3 linked regions of the Homo sapiens genome follow. The protein of the gene in region 3 interacts with the protein of the main gene of each other region in a pairwise test. Each region holds a gene or a part of one and is shown on either strand. Other genes may lie near its edges. The genes, in order: TFAP2D, GNE and SSC4D.

Evidence for each region.
Region 1: the proteins of SSC4D (region 3) and TFAP2D interact in a two-hybrid assay, tested with the Homo sapiens proteins (one large-scale study listed by BioGRID).
Region 2: the proteins of SSC4D (region 3) and GNE interact in a two-hybrid assay, tested with the Homo sapiens proteins (one large-scale study listed by BioGRID).

What each region holds. Positions count from the first base shown.
Region 1 is NC_000006.12:50,747,966-50,751,622, reverse strand, and holds part of TFAP2D (transcription factor AP-2-delta), read right to left. Parts: intron 413-3,657; coding exon 299-412; intron 1-298.
Region 2 is NC_000009.12:36,213,793-36,217,203, forward strand, and holds the end of GNE (bifunctional UDP-N-acetylglucosamine 2-epimerase/N-acetylmannosamine kinase), read right to left. Parts: 3' UTR 649-3,411; downstream 1-648. UniProt on the Homo sapiens protein: Bifunctional enzyme that possesses both UDP-N-acetylglucosamine 2-epimerase and N-acetylmannosamine kinase activities, and serves as the initiator of the biosynthetic pathway leading to the production of N-acetylneuraminic acid (NeuAc), a critical precursor in the synthesis of sialic acids.
Region 3 is NC_000007.14:76,392,615-76,396,271, reverse strand, and holds part of SSC4D (scavenger receptor cysteine-rich domain-containing group B protein precursor), read left to right. Parts: intron 1-941; coding exon 942-1,019; intron 1,020-2,367; coding exon 2,368-2,442; intron 2,443-2,555; coding exon 2,556-2,867; intron 2,868-3,657.

The sequences.
Region 1 (3,657 bases), on a different chromosome or scaffold from region 3:
CCCTTTCATCATGTGGGAGAAAATGGAGACGGTGCCATCTCTGAAGCAAAGAGCAAGCCTTTGTCTAATTAACTCTGCCGGCACCTTAATCTCAGACTTCCCAGGCCTCCAAACTGTAAAAAATATATTTCTGTTGTTTATAAATTACCCAGTCTAAGGTATTTTGTTATAGCCCATCTGAAAGGACTAGGACAGTCACCATATAAACATATAAGTGGTATCTCTAAATAGAACTGTGATAGGAATACAAGCATCTGGGTTAGTAAAGAATTTGAGCAAACTGGAAAACCAGTCTTACCTGAAATGTGTTAAATGTCTCTGGATGTCAAGGTCTAGAATTGGAGTGGGTCTGGAGGATCCCAGTGGTGATCTATCTTGGCTCAAGAGGTCTTGGAATTCTTTACAGATTTGTCTAAAATAAAAGAATCAAATTTAAAATTGAAATTTTCAAATTGAGCTTTAATTTCATCCCATGATATTTAACCAAAGGCTTGTTCTCTCTTTTAAAAGAAGTCTAGATAACATTTCATAAAGCAACCTCAAAAGTTCCATTCATAGCATACAGTTGAGTTTCATAATGGTGACTTTGCTCTCAACGGCTATAGGATAATCATACAACATTTCAAACAAATAACAATCCATGAGCACTGATAAGACCAATGTTTATTTTTAAGATGACTATTCATAAATTAACCTCAGGATAAGGGGAACCCCATATGAAATGATCACTATGATCTTTTTAATTGAAATGTGATTTTTTAAGACATAATATCTGTAAACAAATTTAATTAAAGTTACAGTCTTACTTCAGAGCCATTATTCAAACAGACTTTGGAAAATCCTTTTTTCCCAATATTGCATTAGAGTTCATATTCTTATGAGCTAACTTTATATGCTAATATTTGAAGCAGATAATCACCAGTAATTTAGTTCACTAGCCTCACAAAAAATGGTTATATTATGTTCCATGTAAGCCAATTTCTTGCAAAAATTACCCTCAAGGTAACTTTTCTGCTGCATTTCTTTGCTTTAAATGGTTATGGTTTTTGGTCATTGGTTTCAGTTTAATTACAGTGTTACAATGTAACAGTAAAGACTTTGTGATGTACACTCCAAATGATATAATTCTAAAGAAGCAGAATACACTATACAAAGAGATATTGTTTTTGTTTTTGTATTTTAACAACAAAACACTAAATTAGTCCAGTCTCTGAAAAGTAAAGGATTGCCAAAGAATTGCTTAAAAACATCCATCATCTAAAGTGAGGTGACTCCATAAATCAAGGGATAATATGACAGTAATTAGGTTTTTTGTCTGTTTTTACAATGGGCAGTCGCAAAAATGTAATAATGTAGCCCTGACTTTGATTATCAATGTAAACAAAGACAGGTATAGAAGTGTCAAATTATTTCAAGTGAATATGAACCCGGCCATTATTCTGCTGCAAGGCATTTGTGTCATCAACAAATGACTACCAAAAAGTGACAAAATATCTTGAAGTACAAATAATTGATCACTGAGTTAAAAATCAGTGGGGACTTCTTAATCAGGTATCTAAAATTTATTGAATTCCATCAAAGATCACTTATGATATTTTAAATGAACAATGAGGGTCTGGTTTAATGCCAGTGTTCAAATATTGTGTCATTTCACAGAAATTGCCTTATTCATGTTTGCAGAACACAGGTGAAAGTAAAAAGGAGTCAGAGATAGGAAAAACAAAGTCCTTATCTGCTTCAGTGAAATAAGATACTTCACATCCCCTTCCTAAAGGGCCAGTTGGATCTCTGAGATACAGCATCTGAATACATGCTTTTAACAACTGTGTGTTTCTACTTTCATTCAGACAGTTTCTTCTGAACTCCTCACATTTTCTGTTGTGAGACTCAGTTGCTTTATGAAATATACCTGTTTTCAGGTGTATTGCCCATATTTTAATCAATGAATGCAACTTAATCTAAGTGTTTGGTGCCATTTTGAGGAGTATATCATAATCTTTTGTGCTTTGTGTTATTTAATATAGATTTGTTGTCTTTGTTTATGGAAATTTCTAACTAAAATTTTAAATTTAGCCTCATGCTATCATTTCCAAATTACTGTATGGTAGGTCATCATTACGATCCATTCTTACAAAGAAAGATTGGTGTTGTTTTTAGACTTTTGTTTTTAGCAGTCTTTTAGTTTTTCTATCAGATTAAAATAAATTTTAAAACATTAAAATAAAGATTGAAACATTAGTTATTGTGGCATAATATCAGAATTAATTGGATAATGGAATAAACTTTTAAGTTGACAAATCAACTTTGTTCCTGTATGAATAATACAGCAAGTTATAATAAAATTGACGAAGAAATTAGAGAAAGCTAAAGAGGTGGAAAAATTTAACTCATGCTAAATAATTCACACAGGAGGATCTACCAGGAGTAATATTATATTATATTATATCTCCCCCTTTTATATTTAATTCTACAGCTTAACTCACTCACTTTCAAGCTTAGACTTGAAAACAGATGACAATCCTGTAGATTCCCTGTAGGCAATTATCATCATCATCTCATTATGGCACTTACAGAATTATGATTTTATGACTACTTTCCTTCTTATTTAATTTTTTATTTATAAATCTACAAAAAGAAACAATCTTACATCTCAAGGCAAAATGTCATATTATGAATTATGTAACACAAGATGATCTTCAGTGAATCATACATTCTAACTTTATCACTTACATCATTGTCCTTAAGGACGTAAGTTTTTAGCTGATGTCTGAAATCCAAATTCTATGTTTCACCCTTAGATGATTAACAGTATGGTAACACTAAAAGTTGTTAACTATTCTGCTTTACCTTAATGCAGATCAAATGTTAGACATATTTAGTTCTAAATTCAATCAAAAGGTTTAAATATGTTTTCTATTAACCAAATAAACACGTTTTGTCTGATTCATTTTTAGAATTCAAAAAATGTTTCAGTTTCTATTCTTTCGCCTAAATAAATGTCTAAATTACACAAAATATTTAATCAACAAAACACTGGAAATAAGGTGGCATGAGAAGACTAATGACACTTAATTAATAGGCCCTTTATACAATTGTATACTTGGCAATATACTTAAAGACAACTGAATCTGTAATCCATGGAGGTAAAAAAGAAATATGTAGGCCAATCTGACAATGTAGATTAGCAATTGGATCTCTCATTCAATAAATTTTAGATTTCATATATATTTTTTATAATGTTGTCCAAGTCTTATGAATAAAGGTGAACTGACCAGGATGTAATGAATATCCATATAGGCTACTTAATATTAACTTTTACCATTTTAATTGATGAAAATACCTCATGCTTTACCATTGGTGTAAAATTAGAAACTTCTCAGAACACATGTTGGGTCCATTCATATGTTGCACAAAAAGGGTATTATTTCCACACATTCCCTAGTTTATCTAGTTATAGTGATTACTGGTTATATTACGTATGTTTGCTATGACTGGAGTCTCTGATTTTTATTTCACATAGTCCAATAAGAAGATAGGATGCATATAAGTAACAAAAATAAAAAATTATAAAGCTGTATTATAATTTTCAGGTGTTTATTCCTATTTACTCTTCTGTAAGATAAGTTAATTGAAATGAGTGGATTCAATTCTTGCTTG
Region 2 (3,411 bases), on a different chromosome or scaffold from region 3:
TGAGGTTACACAGCAATAGTAATTTGGGATTGTTTCTAATGCCTGTATGAGACCCACATAGGGCCTCATAAAAAGAGGGAGTGGGTCTAGGGACTCAGTAAATGCTTAACACTTAGTTTCAAACCTCTTTCTTGGGGGCTACTTTGCTTTTTTATGCCAAATTTTCAATGTTATATATAGCAATGTTTTGTTTTTGTTGTTTTTGAGACAGGGTCTCACTGTGTCGCCCAGGCTAGAGTGCAATGGCATGATCATAACTAACTTACTGCAGCCTCCACTTCCCGGGCTCAGGTGATCCTCCCACCTCAGCCTCCTGAGTAGCTGAGACTGCACCATGCCTGGCTAATTTTTTTTGTATTGTTTTGTAGAGATGGGGTTTTGGCATGTTGCCCAGGCTGGTCTCGAACTCTAGGGTTCAAGCAATCTTTCTGCCTCAGCCTCCCAAAGTGCTGGGATTACAGGCATGAGGCACCATGCCCAGCCATGCTTTCTATTAATAGACTTTTTTTGGTTAAGAAAGCAATGATATTAGAGGCCTTAAGGAAGTTATATAACCTTCAAAACGTAAGCAGTGCAACAATTAAATCTCTTCTGGGAAGGAAAATGCTTTTGGCTAATGAGTTACGAACAAAACAAAATACAACAGGATTTCAACAAGGAAATGTATTTATTTTTTCTTTAGAATTTGGCTCAGAACAGTAACAAAAATATTTACATTAAAATAAATTAACATGCAATTACTTAACCATATGTAATAATTTACGTTGGAATATATTAGCCTTCCCATGAGTTTAATAAAAACTAATATTTGGTTTTAGATTCAATACCATCCTTTCAAATATTTGGTATGAAACTTGGTAGCAATGCAATTGTCTGATGTACAGAGCAGATTTCACCATGAGAGATTACACCAAAGAACAGATGTCCCTTCCCAGAACATTATCTCACCCCAGACTCAGAAACTGAGCAGCCAAGCTTCCTTCCCAGGAATCACCATGGAATGTCTGAACAATAACCAGGCCCTGGAGATTACTGCAGGGCTGGCAGAGTTTTAGGAATCAGCCAAACTCTTTTTCACACTAACCCACTAGGAAGGATATAGTTCAAATGTAATGTTGAGTCCTTCAGTTTATTTGAACACTGAAACAATATGTTGTAGAAACCTTCATTTTCCCAAAATAGAAATCTGAAAGATATATGCACATGATTTCTTAGATCATCTAAAAGTACCCATAAAAACCTGTCACTAGGGCCAGGTGTGATGGCTTACACCTGTAATCCCAGCACTTTGGGAGGCAGAGGCGGGCGGATCACCTGAGGTCAGGAGTTCAAGACCAGCCTGGCCAACATGGTGAAACCCTGTCTACTAAAAATACAAAAAAAAATCAGCCGGGCGTGGTGCATGTGCCTGTAATCCCAGCTACTCAAGAGGCTGAGGCAGGAGAATCACTTGAACTTGGGGGGCAGAGGTTGCATTGAGCCACTGCACTCCAGCCTGGGTGACAGAGTGAGACCCGTCTCAAAAAAATAGAACACCTGTCACTAGACCAAATACTATACTGGTAAAATTTCACAGCAGAGAGGAATATTTCATTAAATTCAGCTGATAGGGTCAAGGATACATTAAGTCATTTACAAATCAGATATTAGTATTAAAGTTTTTGGTGGCCTAGAGTGAATTAGAATATGTTAGCATTTTGAAAGTGTTTTTGAAATGAGAGGTTGTGTGGCTCAGCAGCAAAAGCACAGAGGGACCTGGGATCAAACCCTCTCTCTAGCCCCATAGCTTAACAGTCAAACACACCAAGTTCTATAAAATAAAAATTAAAACACCTACCTCATATGTTGAGATAATTTAGGATAATGTATATGAAGCACCTAGTTCAGAGCCTGGCACACAGTAGGCACTTAATAAGTGGTGGCAGTTAGTATTTCTTCCAAGTTAACAATTCATAGCCAGAACTTTGGCTTTTGTATTTTGACACCAATGAAAACACGAATCATGTAGACAGAATCCTGATTCATGGCTCTGGGCTCTAGGTAAAACTCAAAACTTTAATGGACACCCTAGGGTGTTACTCAACACAGTATGAAAGGCTACTGAAGGAAGAAGTGTCTGCTGGTCAGTAGCAAAGATCCTTTTGGGACAGTTAATCTCCTTTTAAAGGCTCTAAGTCCCAGTGGCTTCTCAGCTGTCCTAAGAAGATAAGGACAAGGTCACTAAGGCCACTGTAATTTAGATCCCTGGTCTAAAGTCTCTTGTAAGTTCAGCTAGAGTAATAACATCTTTCAACAAATGGTATCCAGGATTAGGGGGGATATCTGAGATGGGGGAGTGATAGATATGTCCAGTGTCTTGATTGTGGTGATGCTTTCACAGGTATACATATGTCAAGGCTTATCAAATTGTAGGCTTTAAAAACAATAAAGCTGTTTTAAAAAAAAGTGTACTTAAGCCCTTCCTGGTAAGATTTCCCTCTGTTCTCTGACTGGATCACCTTCTGTGATCTTAGTTTGGGGTTAGAGGAGGAAGGATGTGTGTGTGTGTGTGTGTGTGTGTGTAGACGGAGTCTCGCTCTGTCACCCAGGGTGGAGTGCAGTGGCATGATCTCGGCTCACTGCAACCTCCGCCTCCCGGGTTCAAGCAATTCTCCTGCCTCAGCCTCCCGAGTAGCTGGGACTACAGGCACATGCCACCACGCCCGGCTAATTTTTGTATTTTAGTAGAGATGGGGTTTCACCATGTTGGCCAGGCTGGTCTTGAACTCCTGACCTCAGGTGATCCGCCCATCTCGGCCTCCCAAAATGTTGGGATTACAGGCGTGAGCCACTGCGCCCAGCTGGAAGGATTATTATTATTATTATTATTATTATTATTATTTATTATTATTATTTTTGAGATGGAGTCTTGCTCTGTCACCCAGGCTGGAGTGCAGTGGTGCGGTCTCAGTTCACTGCCAGCTCCGCCTCCCTGGTTCATGCCATTCTCCTGCCTCAGCCTCCCGAGTAGCTGGGACCCGCCACCACACCCAGCTAATTTTTTGTATTTTTAGTAGAGACGGGGTTTCACCATGTTTCACCATGTTAGCCAGGGCGGTCTCGATCTCCTGACCTCGTGATCCGCCCGCCTCGGCCTCCCAAAGTGCTGGGATTACAGGCGTGAGCCACTGTGCCCGGCCTGGAAGGATTATTAATGCAAACTTCAGGATGAAGTGATATCCCAGGCAAGGCCTGAAGGTCTCAGTGGTATTAATACATTAGTAAGCAGAGTTCTAAGAAGGCTTCCTCTCTATTATTGTAGCTGCTTTGGCACAGAAAATTGTGACTGTAACTTACAGGGTTTGAGCTAAAATGACCCCTAGTAAGAAGACATCAGAAAGAATAGCATCTACAAAAATAGGAGTGGGGAAA
Region 3 (3,657 bases):
GTATCTCATGGAGAGGCACTCCCACCCCATCCCTGTTTTAGCTAGTCCTCAATTTGGCCCGGTATCTGAGCTCCACCTCCTGAGTCGAGTGAGTCCTCCCTCCTGCCCCATTCCCCACTCAAGAGATTAGTTGTTTTTTTGTTTTTTGTTTTTTCACTTTAAGAGGGGCTGTAGGAGGGCAGAAGTCTGTCTCAGTGAGCCCTGACAGAGCCCCTGCTAACCCTGGGCATGGCCCTTGCCCTGCTAGCCCTGTTTTCTCTGTAAGAGGGGGATAATGGGCTGGGCGCGGTGGCTCACGCCTATAATCCCAGCACTTTGGGAGGCCGAGATGGGCGGATCGCCTGAGGTCGGGTGTTTGAGACCAGCCTAGCCAGCATGGTGAAACCCCATCTCTACTAAAAAAAATACAAAAATTAGCCAGGCGTGCTGGCAGGCGCCTGTAATCCCAGCTACTCAGGAAGCTGAGGCAGGGGAATCGCTTGAACCTGGGAGGCGGAGGTTGCAGTGAGCGGAGATCGCACCATTGCACTCCAGCCTGGGTAACAAGAGCGAAACTCCATCTCAAAAAAAAGAAAAGAGGAGGATAATGAGAACTCAGGCCTGTGTATGGTCCTCCCTGATGGGCAAGGCCTTCTGTACTCCATGTCTGTTGGACACAGAGGACTTCTGATGAGAACATGGGACATTAGAGAGAAATGAAAGCGTGTCTGTTGACAGCCCTGTATAAACTGAAGTGTACACCTCACAGCACAAGTGAATTACAACCACTATCAAAGTGGGGACAGGCCTCCTTGGAACCCCGCTGCGGCTGGGCCACCAGCCCTGGAAGTAACATCTATTCTCTCCTCCAGGCAGACCCTCCTATCCTCCCCTGACAGCCCATGGCTGACCAGAGACCAGAATCTCAGCCTCTGACCCTGCCCCCTTCTCTCCTGCCCTAGGCCTGGGTCCCCCAACGCTCACAGCACTGCCATCCTCAGCCACAAGAGAGGACTGGGCTTGGCAGACAGATCCGTCCGGTAAAGAGCTCAGCCCTCCAGGCGGGAATGGTAGGGGTATGGTGGGTGCGGCTGGGAACTGGGAAGAATGTTCTGGATTCACAGGCGGGGGCCCTGGCTAACAGGCCAGGGCTTTGGCCAGATGGTGCAGAGGTGGGTGAGACAATTATGAGCAGACGGAGCAAGGATGATGAAACTCAGAGCTCTGAAAACTTCAGCGGGGTGGGAGGAGGCAGTAAGAGATTTCTTCAAAGCACAGAAGTAAAATTTGGGATGTGGGCGGTGGCTCACTCCTATAATCCCAGCACTTTGGGAAACAGGCAGGAGGATCTGTTGAGGTCAGTTAAAGACCATCCTGGGCAACGTAGCTAGACCCTGTCTCTAAATATAAATAAATAAATAAATATCTTATATATATTATATATATCTTATATATAATATATATCATATATATTATACACATATTTTATATATTTATATATATCATATATATTATACATATTTTATATATATATATATATATATTATACATACATATATTTAAATTGCCAGGCATAGTGGCTCATGCCTGTAATCCCAGCACTTTGGGAGGCTGAGGCAGGTGGATCACTTGATGTTGGGAGTTCAAGACCAGCCTGGCCAACATGGTGAAATCCCATCCCTACTAAAAATACAAAAATTAAAAATAAATAAATAAAAATACAAAAATTAGCCGGGCGCCTGTAATCCCAGCTACTTGGAAGGCTGAGGCAGGAGAATTGCTTAAGCCTGGCAGGCAGAGGTTGCAAAGAGCTGAGATTGCGCCACTGCACCACAGTCTGGGCGAGACAGAGCGAAACTCTGTATCAAAAAAAAAAAAAAAAAATTAGCTGGGCATGGTGGGTCGCACCAGTCCTAGCACTTTGGAATACCGAGGCAGGAGGATCACTTGAGGCCAGGAGTTCTAGGCTGCAGTGAGCTATGATCGCACCACTGCACTCCAGCCTGGGCGACAGAGCAAGACCCTGTCTCGAAATTAAAAAAACTTTTTTTTCAATGGGATGATGCTGAGATTGGGAATTGAGAGACCTTATGAGGGGGTCGATTGAGATGAAGGTTGAGTCAAGGTTAGCAGTGCAATTGGAATTAGGATAGGAACTATCCCTGGGCCTGAAGTTAGGATAATACCTAGAATTAGCTTTCGGTTCATTCAACCAAGTTTCCCGGAGATCCCAACCCGCGCCAGACAACGTGGTGACTCTGGGGTTGCAGCTGAGTGGGGGTACGGGTGTGGTAGGGTTGGGGGTCTTGGTAGGCGTCCCCGTGCCCTGCTGCAGGACAGAAGGCCTCCTCGTCCCCTTCGAACGCCCTAGATGCCCTGTCTCCACAGCTACAGGAGTTGGCCCCCAGCCTTCCCGGGAGACAGCACTGCTCACCACCGCCGCCTGGGCCGCGGGGAAGAAAAGTAAGTGGCGGTGCCTGGGTCTGCGGGGGATGGGGAAGGGTAGGGCTGGGGCTCTGCCGGGAGCCGGCAGCCCCAGCCCAGCCCCTCTGGCCGCGGGCCTGTGCGCCCCGCAGGTGGACGGCTGCGACTGGTGGGCGGCCCGGGTCCGTGCCGCGGCCGCGTGGAGGTGTTGCACGCCGGGGGCTGGGGCACCGTGTGCGACGATGACTGGGACTTTGCGGACGCGCGCGTGGCCTGCCGCGAAGCGGGCTGCGGGCCTGCGCTGGGCGCTACGGGACTGGGCCACTTCGGCTACGGCCGCGGCCCCGTGCTGCTGGACAACGTGGGCTGCGCCGGCACCGAGGCTCGCCTGAGCGACTGCTTCCACCTGGGCTGGGGCCAGCACAACTGCGGCCACCACGAGGACGCGGGAGCGCTCTGCGCAGGTGAGGCTGACAGCGAAGGTGAGGCTGACAGCGGGGCCGCGCACTGCGGCGTGGGAGGGGCGGGGCGGCGCCACGCGCGAGGCCTCTCTTGCGGCACTGCCGCCCGGGGAGCATGCGCACTCCGCAGAGGGGCGCCGCCCCGCCGTGCGCCCGCTCTGCGGCTGCGCGGCGGGGCGAGGCCGGAACGGAGAGCCTTCTGCAGTGGAAAATGGGGCGGGGCCTGGTGAGCGCCGCGTGGTGCAGCTGTGAGGGGCGGTGTCCGAAGGTCAGGGCTAAGGCCGATCCCAGTTCGAGAAAGGCATCAAGTCCGTAAAGGGTGGGGCCGTTTGCTCCCGGCTAAATCTAGACCCCGCAAAACTCTATTAAGCAGAGAGTGGATCACCCTTACCAGAGCTAGCGTGTGACCTTTGGGCGGAGTCAGTGGAAAGGGGTGTTTGCAGTTTGGCAGAACATTGTGAAATTCATTGATTGCTGTGGGAATTGATATCTTCACCCTCATTTGGTGCCCCAGGGCTAGTAGGCCCTACTTCCCATAGTTTTGGCCACAGAGGGTTCTGTTTTGGGGCCAAGGTTTGGAGAGGCACAACACCTATTTCTTTTTTTTTTTCTTTTGAGACAGAGTCTTGCTCTGTCACTCAGACTGGGCTGCAGTGGCACGATCATAGTTCACTGCAGCCTTAAACTCCTGGGCTCAAGCTATCCTACTCCGCTCAACCTCCAGAGTAGCTGGGACCACAAGGGGCATGCCACCGTGCCTGGCTAATTTTTGAATTTTTTTTAGAGATGAGGT